Linked DNA regions of Homo sapiens. The protein of the gene in region 4 purifies or fractionates together with the protein of the main gene of each other region. This does not show direct contact. Each region holds a gene or a part of one and is shown on either strand. Other genes may lie near its edges.

Region 1 (3,500 bases), about 49 Mb from region 4:
AACACTTGTCTAGTTGCTTGCTGTTTTAGTTTATATAAACTAAGAAATTTTACTTCAGTGGTTAGTCTTACTGCAGCATTTTTGATGGTCAATTAGTTGATTTCCATTTGCTTTTGGTAAGGTTATGGTTAAATTTAAAAATTTTAAAAATGTCACTGGCCTTTTTTTTTTTTTTTTAGAGCATCTGTGTGAATTACTTTTTAACTTAAATTCCAGTTAGCCTCTTAGGGATTTTTAGGAAAAAAAAATCTGCTGTCGTGATTTATACCTAACGAAGGAGTAGTGTCATGAGTGTGTAAAAAACGACATACAAAGGGGAATAGAACAGAGTAGAGAAGGTGAATAACTACTAAATCTGCAAGGAACACAAGGTAGTGTGGTGTTGATATTTTCTGTTAGGAGATATACCCATTTGTTCCTTTAGATCATATGCCTTATATGAGAAGGTGACGTTACATAAATATGGTAGCTGAGTCTGGGTCTCAGCTAGGAAATGCTGATTGGATAAAAAATTTGACTTTTTTTTTTTTTTTGAGATGGAGTCTCACTCTGTCGCCCAGGCTGGAGTGCAGTGGCACGATCTTGGCCACTTCCCAGGTTCAAGTGATTCTCCTGCCTCAGCTGCCTGAGTAGCTGGGACTATAGGTGAGCACTACCATGCCCAGCTAATTTTTCTCTTTCTTTTTTCTTTTTTTTTTTTTTTAAGATGGAGTCTCTCTCTGCCTCCCAGGCTGGAATGCAGTGGTGCAATCTCGGCTTACTCCACCTCCCGGGTTCAAGTGATTCTCCTGCCTCAGCTCCTGAGTAGCTGGAACTACAGGTGCCCACCACCACTCCCGGCTAATATTTGAATTTTTAGTAGAGACAGGGTTTCACCTTGTTGGTCAGGCTGGTCTCCAACCCTGGACCTCGAGTGATCCACCCACCTCGGCCTCCAAAAGTGCTGGGATTACAGGCGTGAGCCACTGCGCCTGGCGAGGACTGTTTTTTTTTTTTTTGTTTTTTGTTTTGAGACGGAGTCTCGTTCTGTCCCTGGGCTAGAGTGCAGTGGCCGGATCTCCGCTTACTGCAAGCTCCGCCTCCCGGGTTCACGCCATTCTCCTGCCTCAGCCTCCCGAGTAGCTGGGACTACAGGCGCCCACCACCAAGCCCAACTAATTTTTTTGCATTTTTAGTAGGGACGGGGTTTCACCGTGTTAGCCAGGATGGTCTCCATCTCCTGACCTCGTGATCTGCCCGCCTCGGCCTCCCAAAGAGCTGCGATTACAGGCGTGAGCCACCGCGCCGAGCCTGGACTGTTTTTTAATCAAAGACACTTTTATCTTTAAAATGAACATACGGTTATTACAATAGAAATCTGAGCAGATCCTCTGATGGCTTCCTCTGGTGATTCCCGTTTCCTGGAGTCTCTCTAAAACATAGTTATAGAAGAAATGAATTGTATATATTTTGAATCTATTTAATTCCTCTTCTTTCAGTTGAGGAGATGGGGTTGGAGAGGTAGGCAGTTTTCATATCATGTAGAGCCTTTCACACCTTCAAGACATTTTGTATTTTTCTTTGGCAGTACTTACCACTATCATGATTAAGTAATTATTTGTATGATCATTAAATGAATGTTTGTCTTGATAGACTAAGTTCTATGTGTTTAGGAGCCACACTGCCATCACCTGCAGTACAGTGTTTATATAAATAAATGGAGCTCATGGCAATCTTAAGTTTTGAAACCATTTTGTGTGAAAATTTGTTCTTACATATTTAATATAATAGATGTCAGAGAATATCATTTCTTAAAAATGTTAATCATTTGCACAAAAGGTCCCTATCCCTTTAGAGAGAATGACACGTAAGAGGCTGAATTAATTAGGAGATCATCAAGGAGTTGTTTTCTTTATTTGTTGGCTACAAGCATAGGGGTTTTTGTCTGGATTTGTTCACAGGTTTATTCCTAGAAACAGGAATAGTGCCTGTTACAGAAATATATGTTGAATCAATGAATCAATAAAAGTGAATGACACTCACAACTCAGTAATAAGAAAACAAACAACCTAATTAAAAAATGAGCAAAAGATTTGACCAGACACTTCACCAAAACAGATATAGGATGGCAAAAGACACACATGAAAAGGTGGTTAACATCATTAGTCATTAGGAAAATGAAATTTTAAACCACAATGAGATACTGCTACACATCTGTTAGAATCATTAAAATAAAAATAGCTGACAAAACCAAGTGTTGGTGAAGTTGTAAGGCAACTAAAACTCTCATATGTTGCTGGTGGTACAGCCCACTTTGGAAATCAGTTTGCCAATTTCTTATAAAATTAAACATGTGCTTAAACTAAATACTGCATGTTCTCACTTATAAGTGGGAGCTAAATGATGGGAACACATGGACACTAAGAGGGGAACAGCTGATATTGGAGCTTACTTGAGGGTGGAGGGTGGGAGGAAGGAGAGGATCAGAAAAAATAACTATTGGGTACTAGGCATAGTACCTCGGTGACAAAACATTCTGTACCACAAATCCCCATGACACGAGTTTACCTATATAACAAACCAGTACATGTACCTCTGAACCTAAAATAAAAATTAAAAAAAAATAACTAAATGAAACTATAAATGTATATGTGGGTCAGTACCAAGAAGTTTTTTTCACAAACCCCTAAGTATCTGATTTCCACTCAAGTCTTTTAAACTTGTTTGATGTTGCTGAGTAGCAGAGGTCTTTTATTTTCCACTTTTTAACGTACCTAAAAAGCATGAACCCTGCATTTCAATGGACTGTATTGTACGCTTTTTTGCTATAAAACTTTTTCATCAAACACAATTACATTGTTCAATTTTGTTGTAAACTTAACATAAGATGCACTGTTGATATGCTTTCTGATATGTTTGATAAGAGTGATAAAATAAAGCTTAAGAATTAAAAAAAAATTAAAAGTAAGCATATACTTAACATCTGTCCTAGAAACCTGCTCCTAGAAATTTGCCTAAAGGAAAATGAAACATATGTATACACACACACACACACACACACACAAAGACCTGTACACAGATGTTTGTGAAGGCTTTATTCATAATTTCTAAAAAATTGAAAGCAACCCAAATACTCATTAACTAGTGAATAGATAAATAAATGGCTAAATAAACTATGATACATCCACACAATGAAATATCACTCAGCAAGAAAAAAGAGCAAACTACTAATACAAGCAGCAACGTGGATGAATCTCAGATACATTATGGTTCAGTGAAAGAAGCCAGACTCAAATGGCTACATACTATGTGATTCCATTTATGTGACACTCTAGAAAGACAAAACTGTGAGATGGAAATCAGATAAACACGGATAAGGGTTCATCAACCAACAGGGCTGGAACTAGGGAAAGTGAATGGACTACCAAGAAGGGGAGCTGTTTGGAATGATGGGAATGTTCTGTATTTTGACTGTGACAGTGGTTATCCAACCATATCCATTTGTCAAAATTCATAGAACT
Region 2 (2,488 bases), on a different chromosome or scaffold from region 4:
ATTTGATACATTAATATTAATTGTTAAATGTTGAGCTTACTGTTTAAAATAATTTTCTGGTCTCTTGCAATAGTGAGAAAACAAAGGGAAAAGATTCCGAGTCATATCAAACTGCAGCTGGGCTGCTCCTCCTTCATTGAAGTGATTAGCAAGAATTATCTGAAACAAAGAATAATTCATATAACAGTTGTCTTTATTATCACAGCCCAAAAACAGTCTATTCTTACTTACTTCTTGGTAGATGTATACATCCAGCTTCTCTACAAGCATTTGCCAGAAAATTTTAAATAAGGAGAAACAAAGCTGCTGCTCCAACTGAAGTAAATGGTCTCGTAACGTCAGCAGCAACGGGCAAGCCGAACTGGACAGGGACATCACTGCCTGCTCTGACTGAGATGGCAAGGACAACCATCTGGAAAAAACACATTTTTACCAAAAAATTTTCATCAGTTTCTATTTTTCAAGTTTTTAAATCATTTTAAATTTGAGGAAGTGTTCTGTCCTAGGGCATTTTGGATAAGAAAAAATATACAGCCTAACATTAAAAGCTCTATCAGAAAATAAATGTACCTGTATTTATATTTTCACTCTCAAATACTCTTTAATATGGGGATATATCCAAAATATCCCCAAATTTTAATATGTGAATTACTGATATAAGGCAATTACAATTTAAAATGTCACTTAATTTTTGCATTTTATTTATGTAGTTTTTCTTTTTTTTTGAGACAGAGTCTCGCTCTGTTGGCCAGGCTAGAGCCACAGGGTTCAAGCAATTCTCGTGTCAGCCTCCCAAGTAGCTGGGATTACAGGTGCCCACCACCACGCCCAGCTAATCTTTGAATTTTTTAGTAGAGACAGGGTTTCGCCATGTTGGCCAGGCTAGTTTCGAATTGCTGCCCTCAAGTAATCTGCCCGCCTTGGCCTCCCAAAGTGCTGGGATTACAGGTGTGAGCCACTGCACCCAGCCTGATTTTAGCATTTTAATTAAGACATCAGCTAATATTATCCTCTAATTTTTAGTAAAAACAGGACTAATAAACGAATTTTAAGCACTCTGTGTGGCAGGGACTATGCTAGGACAAAAAGATACTGCTTGCTATCAAGGATGAAAGTAACACAGGTGTTCACAGTGAATGGTAGTGGGATAAACCACAACAAAAGTATGCAGAGTACCACAGGTGCACTTTACTTTGCAAAATGGGAGACAGGTTAGGCTATTCAACCCCAGATCACACACTATCCTATTGATATATTTACAAACAACTAAATTATAATCAGTTTATTCTGATTAAGAATGTCAGCCAGGTGTGGTGGCTCACACCTGTAATCCTAGCACTTTGGGAGGCCGAGGCAGGTGGCTTGCCTGAGGTCAGGAGTTGGAGATCAGCCTGCCCAAAATGTGAAACCACATCTCTACTAAAAATACAAAAATTAGCCTTGTGTGGTGGTGCATGCCTGTAGTCCTGGCTACTTGGGAGGCTGAGGTGGGAAGGTCACTTGAACCTCTAAGGCAGAGGTTGCAATGAGCCAAGATCGTGCAACTGCACTCCAGCCTGGGTGACAGAGTAGGACTGTCTCAAAAAAAATGTCCAAGAGAACATACTTTAGAAATATTTCCATCAACAATAAAGTACATAAGGCCAAACCGGGTTCTATCTAGACACCTTGAAAATCTGACCACATATTCTTTAACTTTTACCAAACTGGTGTTAAGAGCTGACTTACATAGAGGACATACCTTTCTTTTTTATACAATTTTGCAGCATCTTTAACTTCTCTAAAAACGTGGTCTACTTGACGGGTCAACATATCATGCTTTAAACGTTCTAAGAGGTTAATCATGTCATCAAAGACAGAGCTCTCCATAGAGGCTAGCTGTCCTAGCTGCAATTTACTCAGAGTATTATTCTCTGCAAACACCTCCAGTGCAGCCTGTTGAAGTTGTAGAAAGAACTGAAAGCAAAAACATGTTAACACATTAGCATACTTTTTTTTTAACAGTTTGAAATAGAATTCATATGTCATACAATTCACCCATTTAAAGTGTATAATTCGACCGGGCACGGTGGCTCATGCCTGTAATCCCAGCACTTTGGGAGGCTGAGGTGGGTGGATCACCTGAGGTCAGGAGTTCGAAACCATCCTGGCCAACATGGTGAAACTCCAACTCTACTAAAAATACAAAAATAAGCCGGGTGTGGTGGCATGTGCCTGTAATCCTAGCTTGAACCTGGAAGGTGGAAGTTGCAGTGAGCCGAGATCATGCCTCTGCACTCCAGCCTGGGCGACAAAGTGAGACTCCATCTCAAAACTAATAATAGTGTATAATTCAATGATTTTTTTATATATTCAGTTGTATATCCATCACAATTTTAGAACATTTTCATCACCAAGAAAAAAGCCGTTATCCTCTAATACCGTCTCCCCACTCCCTCAACTCATAGGCAACCACTAATTGACTTTCTGTCTCAATGGATTTGCCTGT
Region 3 (3,500 bases), on a different chromosome or scaffold from region 4:
AGGGAGAGGTGGGTGGAGGGGGAAGGTTCCCCAGATAGGCACCCACTGCCTCCTCCCACCTGGCTCAGCTGGGGCAGGGGACAAATGAGCACATCCTCCATGCCAGGCCTGGGGCTGGTGCTTCTTGAGGACCCTGAGAGGGTCAAATGACGGTGAGCCCCCTTTTCAAAGTGAGGAAACAGATCCAGAGAGGGGCAGTGACCTGCCCAGGGCACGGTGAGACATGGGGTGGGAATGGGAACCTGGTCTGACAAAGCCCAAGCTTTTGCCCACCACCGGTGCCCACAGCAGGGCAGGGCTCTGTGGGGTGTGTGTGTGTGGGGTGTGTGGGGCCACCACCCCAGGCCGTGAGCCAGGGACACCAGGAAATCCTGGACTCCGTGCTTCTGCCAGGCAATGGTAAAAAAACTCCGGCCAAGCAAAATCTAGCGCCAACCCTCCAGCTCCTTCCCGCTGGCCACGCCCCCTCCCACTGCCCTCTTTGGCCCCTCTTTTGCCAAGTGTCCTGAAAATAGGTGGGCATGTGTGAGCTACAGCTAAAGCCACGACAGCAGGAGTCACAAAGATCTGGAACACTGGGGCTGCAGGTCCCTAGTCATGTGGCCTCAAACAAGGGACTCTCGTCCCAGCCTCACCATCTTCACCCATAAGACGCGGTGACAATGGTGCTGACTTTAATGGGGTGCAGTGAGGATTCAAAAAGTGCACCCATGAAGGAAAGAGCACTAAGTGAGGCAGGAGCTGGACCCGCAAAAGCCTCCAGGGCTGGGTGGGCAGGTGATGCCAGCACAGAAACACAGCTGTGAGAACCACACTTCTCATCCAAAGGCTGGCTGGCAGGGGCCAGACGTGAGGGAGGAGCACGTCCCTCTTCGGGGGCAACGGGACCTGGCCTGGAGATAAGCACATGGTGGCCTGGTGCGGTGGTCCTGCGGGCGTGGGGTGTGCTACCTTGGCGTTGAGCATGTCGATGCAGAAGTGGCAGAGGGCCGCCTTGAAGAAGTAGTCTTTGGCGCTGTACTTGAGGAGGGGGCTGTCCATGGCATTGGTCCCCACCTGTAGCCATGGAGAAGTGGCACTGGTGAGCTCAGGGCAAGCAGCCAGAGGGCCAGAGCCACTGCCAGGCACTGGGGGGCCAGCTGGGAGCTGGTTCATGTCCCGAGGTGAGGCCCTGTTAACCCAGGACCCCAAGGGCAGGGAGCCAGGGACCAGCTTGGAGAGGTCAGCGGCCAGTGCGTGAGCGACCAAGATCAGGGTGTGATGGTGGCTGGGTGGGGGTGGAGGCTGTAGCCAGGTGTTCGTGGGCCTTCTGAGAGCCTGAGACAGTGGGAAGGAGGCAGCCTGGCTGTCAGGACCAACGGGAGGCTGGCATGGCGGTGGGCAGAGCGGCGGCAGGCGGTGGGAACATGAGAGGCGGCGCCCGCCCCTCTCTCCCAGGGGGCCAGCTGCCTGCCTTTTTCTCGGCCATCACCCAGGGCTCCGTGCACGCTGGGGGGACCCCATGTGACACTCCCTCCCTCCCACTGTGGATGAGGACCATCGGGCCATGGGGTGGGGTGCCCACGGCCACCCTGGGCCTCTTGGCACTTCTTCCCATTCCCTCCCTCTGGGTTCTTTAGCCAGCCTCACTCTGGGCCCCTCCAGGAAGCTCTGCGAGGGGTGTGGGAGGGGCACAGCCAGGGAGAGAGACGGTGCTGGCACGGCATGGAGTCGTAGGTGGAGAACATTCAGCCAGGCTGAAGACAGGGTGGGGGGATGACATGGCAAGGGATGTCGGGGGAGAGGCAGAGGGTGAGCCGGGGGAGGGGTGGTTCCAGAACAAGGTGCCGGGGCTTAGGAGGAGGCACAGGCCCTGAGAGGGGGCAGGGTGGAAGCCGCCATCCCCACCTGTCCCCACCTGTTCGTAGATGTCAATGGCCTTCTGATACTGCTCCAGCAGCGCAGCGTAACCAGCCACCTTCAGCAGACACTTGTTGGCTGAGCTGTGTGGGGAGGAGTAGTGAGGGGAAGTGGTGGCGGTCCCTGCGGGGCTGGGGCAGGCAGGAAGGGGGCTACCTGTTGGACTCCTCGCCTTTGTAGTAGTCTGCAGACTGCTCGTAGTGGGCAATGGCCTGGGGAGACACGGGGGATGGGTTCCAGGGGAGGGCAGGGAAGGGAGAGGAGGCCTCCGTGAAGCTTCCACACCCTCCGCCCTGCCTGCCTGGGACACAGCCAGACCCCATTCTCCAAGCTCTGCCGGCGCCCCATGCCCCCTTCTCGGCACTCAGACACCAGAGGACTCCCCTGGTGGGAAGAAGAGAGAGCAGCACTGGTCCTGGCTGCCAGCCCATGCAGGGCCCTGCTGCCACTCACCTTCTCGATGTCCACCAACTCTGTCTCATAGATCTCAGCAATGGAGATGTGGTGCTTGGCCGCAATCGTGAATCGGCCCTGGAGGGGACACAGGAAGGGGCTGCCTGCGACTCATGACCTCCTGCGTGCCTGCCTGCTGACCTATGACCCTTCAAGTTCCCACCCCTCAGCCACGCCTGTGAGGAGGTATGAAGAAGACCTGAGGTGTGAAGAAGATCGAGAGGTGGGGGAACACAGGAGTGAGAAGGGAGGGCCCCAGCACTAGAGGCCTGGCTATGCGTGCTGGGCTGAGCGGGTGATGTTGGACAAGCCACTCCAGGGCCTTAGCCTAATTCCATCCCATCCACGAGGGCACAGATGGTGTGACACCAGAGAGAATGTGAGCACGAGCACTTGGCCAAGGCCCTGGCCCTTAGGAAGCCTCTGATAACAGCCAGAGAGGCGGAAGGACCAGTCCAGAGCCACTTGGCAAAGGGCTCTGGAGAAACCAGGATGGGAGGGAGGGCTTGAGACCTCTGCCCAAGAGTACCAGCTCTGCCCCCAGGCCAACACCTATCTGTCAGCCTCCCCCAGGCACACCCAGAGCTCCCCAGGGAGGCCTCAGGTTCCAAGGGGCCTCGCACCTTCCATCCGCCTCCACCCAGTGTCCAGGCGCTTGCCTAACTGCTCTGCACCAGGGGCTGGTCCAACGCCACCCCCTTGCTGAGGGCAGTAGGAAAGGGCAAGGCCCTGGGCTCAGCCAGACCTTGTTTCGGGTCTCAGTGACTCCTGCTTGTAGCCACATGTCCCTGGGCAAATCATGTCACTTGTCTGAGCCCCTCTCCTCCACTAAGGAACGGGGATGACAATAATGCCAACCTCACAGGGCTGTGGATTAAACCACCCTGCAGTGTCTGGCCTAATAAATGGCAGCTGCTATTATTGTTCTAATCACAGTCATCCCTGCAGCACTGCCCTGAACGCAAGGGGTAGGGCTCGTGTCCCTGCCTGGGGTTGGAGGGCTGAGACAGACAGGGCAAGCGGAGAGGCAAAAAGGAGCTGGCCAGGCACGGTGGCTCATGCCTGCAATCCCAGCACTTTGGGAGGCCAAGGCAGGTGGATCACTTGAGGTCAGGAGTCTGAGACCAGCCTGGCCAACATGGTGAAAC
Region 4 (3,500 bases):
TGTTGATACTCTGCTCTTGAATTAGACACACTCAGGCATTAGTGCCACTGCGCAGCCGCAGCCCCTGGAGCACAGACAGCAGGGACAGGCCCCTTTGCAACATAGGAGAGAGAGGAACAGAGCGGAACCTCTGCTGTCTCTAAGTAGGTAAAAGAGAGGAGAGAAAGGTGTGGTGACTATATGCACACCCCATGCTTTCTGCGAGGGGGCCAGAGGGAGGAGGCTCTGGGAGGAGGCAAGGTGTCATTTGGGGAAGTTGGTTCCCACAGAAACATGAGGATTAGGGAATAAGCATTCCCCCCGGTAGCCCAGGTTCTGTCCAGGTGGAGAAAGACCACCCTTATTGTCTCTCATCAAGTTCTCCCTCCCAAAGGTGGTAGACTGCTTAAAGCCTTTCTTTTTTACTCTTCTGCCCTCCCAGTGCAATGTGCTAGCCTTGGCCTGCTCCTAGGAACATTTTATGTGGAGTATGATCATGGAATTGAAAGAATATGTGTAGAAATACTGCCTTCAGACCTATGAGGCTTTGTTAGTTTGACATAATTAGGAAGCTGTAATTTTTTCCAGAATGTAGAGCTCAGACTTTATTGACCCATTTAATTTTTTTTTAATAATGACATTTTACTAGAGCAGAACAGCATGTAACCTAGATAGCCTGTGGCTAGATCTCTGAATGATTTTAATTAAAAATAATGTCTCCACTTCTGGTAGATGGACTTTTTCCACAATATCCTGGCAACAAAACAATCTGGGAGAAAAAACTTCCTTGGTTTCTGTTGTTCTTACTAATAGAATAACCATACTGTCAATTTTCAATTTAGAAGGTTAATGTATATATATAATGTTTCCTAAAGGAACATTACCTTTTAATTAAATAATCAGTTTTATCAAATTAACCTTTAGACCTTTTCAATTTCACTGAGCTGAGTTTCCATTAAATCAAAATATAGAGTAGGAGGATGTTAATCGAATGTTCTTGGAACTAGTCATTTCTAGGTCTGTTCTGTCTGCAGGGTACATATTCACTGAGTTGGTACCTTTCTGACTCATTTGTCCCTGACCCCGTTAGCCTCTATTTCCGATGAGAAGGTTCCTAGTAGGGATGAACCTAAGGCTTTGGCCCCTCTGCTTGCCACTCTGGCTCCTCCCCAGAGGGGAGCCATTCATCTGGTGTTGGAGGTGGGCTGGGGTTGGGGAGAGGGGATCGAGCTTGCTGGCTTAGCGCCTTTGTCTCACTGTTGGGTCTTCCCTCGGACAGAGTCCATTCTCTCATGGTTGCCATCCCAAGCCTAAGTAACTAATAGAACAAGATCCTAAGGAGCATTGGAATAAGGAACTAATTCCATGTCACTCTTCAAGTTCCACTGAGAGAGGATCATCTATTCCCTAGGAGGCTGGAGGCTGTGGGATTTCTTTTTCCAACTCTTCCTTAGAAAATATGGAAGTGGGGTAGGGGCCGTGGGATAGGGGTGACTCCAAGGGAGGAGAGGATGCTTATCTGGTGATTGGGAGTGAGAAGGACTTCGTGCTCATCTTACCCCTTTCTTTTTTAGAAGGGCCTGTCCTCAGGATGGATGTATTCCCTGTTTGTTTGTGCCTTAAGTTTCCTAGAGAAGGCTTTGGGAGGGGGATGCCTACCTGTCTTGGGGTGGGGGGAAAAATCGGTTTAGGAGGAACTTACTAGGGAGCACAGTCGTAGCTGTGTATCAAGCATATTCTCCAACTCAGGCTCATTCATTGGTTCAGTTCATTCAAAAGTATTTATTACTGATTTATTAATTGATCAGCCTATTAAAAATGCTAGGCATTGCTCTTGATGATGGGGATACAGCAGTGAACAAACAGAAGTCCTTGCCTTTGTGGAACTTACGTTTTTAGAGGGGAGAGACAGGCAAGAAAAGAAATAATTACACAAAATATATGGAATGTTAGAGTGGGGTAAGTATCTTTACGGGGAAGGAAGAAGGGAAGTGGGATAGAAAATGTCAGGGAGGGGACAGTTTATAAAGAAGGATTAGGGAAGGCCTCATTAAGAGGGCAACATGGAGTAAACACCTAAAAGAAGTAAGGGATGCATTGATGCAGCTATCTGGGGAAAGAACATTCCAGAAGGAGGAGACAACCAACACATGTAAAGGTCCTGAGGTGGGAGTGTGCCTGGAATGTTTAGGGAACACCCTCCACCCTCTGATTCAGTCATTTTGTAGTGTGAGACCCTTCAGTAGCTGCGCCATTGTTCTCAAAAGCAGAGCCTACATTCTTTATAAGCCTGGCTTATGCTGTAGCCCTGACTCCACGCTCCTTCTCCCTCTCCCTCTCCCCATCTGGCTTACGTCAGTTGGGTCTATTCCGGAGGATTTTCTACCACACACCCTTCATATGTGTTCTACTATCTATCTAGATGGTTCTCTCACCTTTTCACCTGGCCTGTTCCTCCTCACCCTTCAAGTCTCAGCTTAAATGTCACCTGATCAGGGAGGCCTTTTCTTCTCTTCCCATCCCACTCAGACTATATTATGTTCTCATTTGCTGCTGCCCTTTCCTTTGCTGTCTTTTTTTAGCCATACCATGTCTGAATATGGGAGGATGACAGACACAGAACGAGACCAGATAGACCAGGATGCCCAGATATTCATGAGGACCTGTTCAGAAGCAATTCAGCAACTACGAACAGAAGGTAAAGTGCTCTGAAAGATGCAAACAAGCAACCATGAATATAGCAAGTAGTTAAACAAGATGCATATGGTGCGGCCAGTTAAAATTCCCTCTTCTTATTTCGATTTAGGTTTTAAAACGTTAAAATCTTTTCTTTCTTGATCAATGTTTTAACCAAAGCTGTTAAAAGTACTGCAAAGGCTGTATCATTCAAGTTAAACCAATGAGAGGAGGGAGATGGAAAGGACCTCTCCAAACAGAACCAAAAATATATCTAGGGGCCAGGGGCAGTGAAGACAAATTTGTGTGTGTGTGTGTGTGTGTGTGTGTGCGTGTGTGTGTGTTCTGTGTGGCAAATTGTATGTGTGTGGGTGTGTATGTGTGTATGCACATGTGTGCCTCTGTTCTGTGTGGCATTTAGTGGGATGGGAGTTGACAGCAGCCTGGGGTACTTAAGCTCTACTTGTAATATTCAAGTAAACTTTCCTATCAAACCTTCAAGGTTAGGAGGAAGGCTCTGGAGCCAGGGCTGCTTAGGTTGCACCCCAACTCCACCCGTCCGAGCCATATAGCCCTCTGCAAATCACTTAATCTCCCTGGGCCTTGTTTTTTTGTCTATGAAATGCAGACAATTAGGGAATGTATCTCTAGGGTTGTTATGAGCATTAAGTTAAATTCCTACAGCATGCTTAGAACTGTGTCTGGCACAAGAGCGCTTATTATCTCACTTTCGTTGATGTTTAATTCTCACTGAGACAATGAGATGGCTTCCCAAGTCACGCCTCTTTCTTGATTCTTTTTTAATTTGCTTAGGCATTTACAGAGTACATTAAATAGTAAGTAGA

The links.
Region 1: the proteins of STX18 (region 4) and SCFD2 purify together in Homo sapiens (co-immunoprecipitation; 4 studies listed by BioGRID and IntAct, with this or other methods). This does not show direct contact.
Region 2: the proteins of STX18 (region 4) and RINT1 purify together in Homo sapiens (co-immunoprecipitation; 7 studies listed by BioGRID and IntAct, with this or other methods). This does not show direct contact.
Region 3: the proteins of STX18 (region 4) and NAPA purify together in Homo sapiens (affinity purification with mass spectrometry; 4 studies listed by BioGRID and IntAct, with this or other methods). This does not show direct contact.

What each region holds. Positions count from the first base shown.
Region 1 is NC_000004.12:53,275,562-53,279,061, reverse strand, and holds part of SCFD2 (sec1 family domain-containing protein 2), read left to right. Parts: intron 1-3,500. UniProt on the Homo sapiens protein: May be involved in protein transport.
Region 2 is NC_000007.14:105,563,201-105,565,688, reverse strand, and holds part of RINT1 (RAD50-interacting protein 1), read right to left. Parts: intron 1,957-2,488; coding exon 1,742-1,956; intron 566-1,741; exon of another isoform or gene 413-565; coding exon 232-412; exon of another isoform or gene 160-231; coding exon 41-159; intron 1-40. Other genes in the region: EFCAB10 (EF-hand calcium-binding domain-containing protein 10), read left to right, coding at 74-140. UniProt on the Homo sapiens protein: Involved in regulation of membrane traffic between the Golgi and the endoplasmic reticulum (ER); the function is proposed to depend on its association in the NRZ complex which is believed to play a role in SNARE assembly at the ER.
Region 3 is NC_000019.10:47,491,064-47,494,563, forward strand, and holds part of NAPA (alpha-soluble NSF attachment protein), read right to left. Parts: intron 2,539-3,500; exon of another isoform or gene 2,431-2,538; coding exon 2,353-2,430; intron 2,112-2,352; coding exon 2,056-2,111; intron 1,983-2,055; coding exon 1,898-1,982; intron 1,057-1,897; coding exon 952-1,056; intron 1-951. UniProt on the Homo sapiens protein: Required for vesicular transport between the endoplasmic reticulum and the Golgi apparatus. Together with GNA12 promotes CDH5 localization to plasma membrane.
Region 4 is NC_000004.12:4,458,549-4,462,048, reverse strand, and holds part of STX18 (syntaxin-18), read left to right. Parts: intron 1-76; exon of another isoform or gene 77-143; intron 144-2,561; coding exon 2,562-2,677; intron 2,678-3,500. UniProt on the Homo sapiens protein: Syntaxin that may be involved in targeting and fusion of Golgi-derived retrograde transport vesicles with the ER.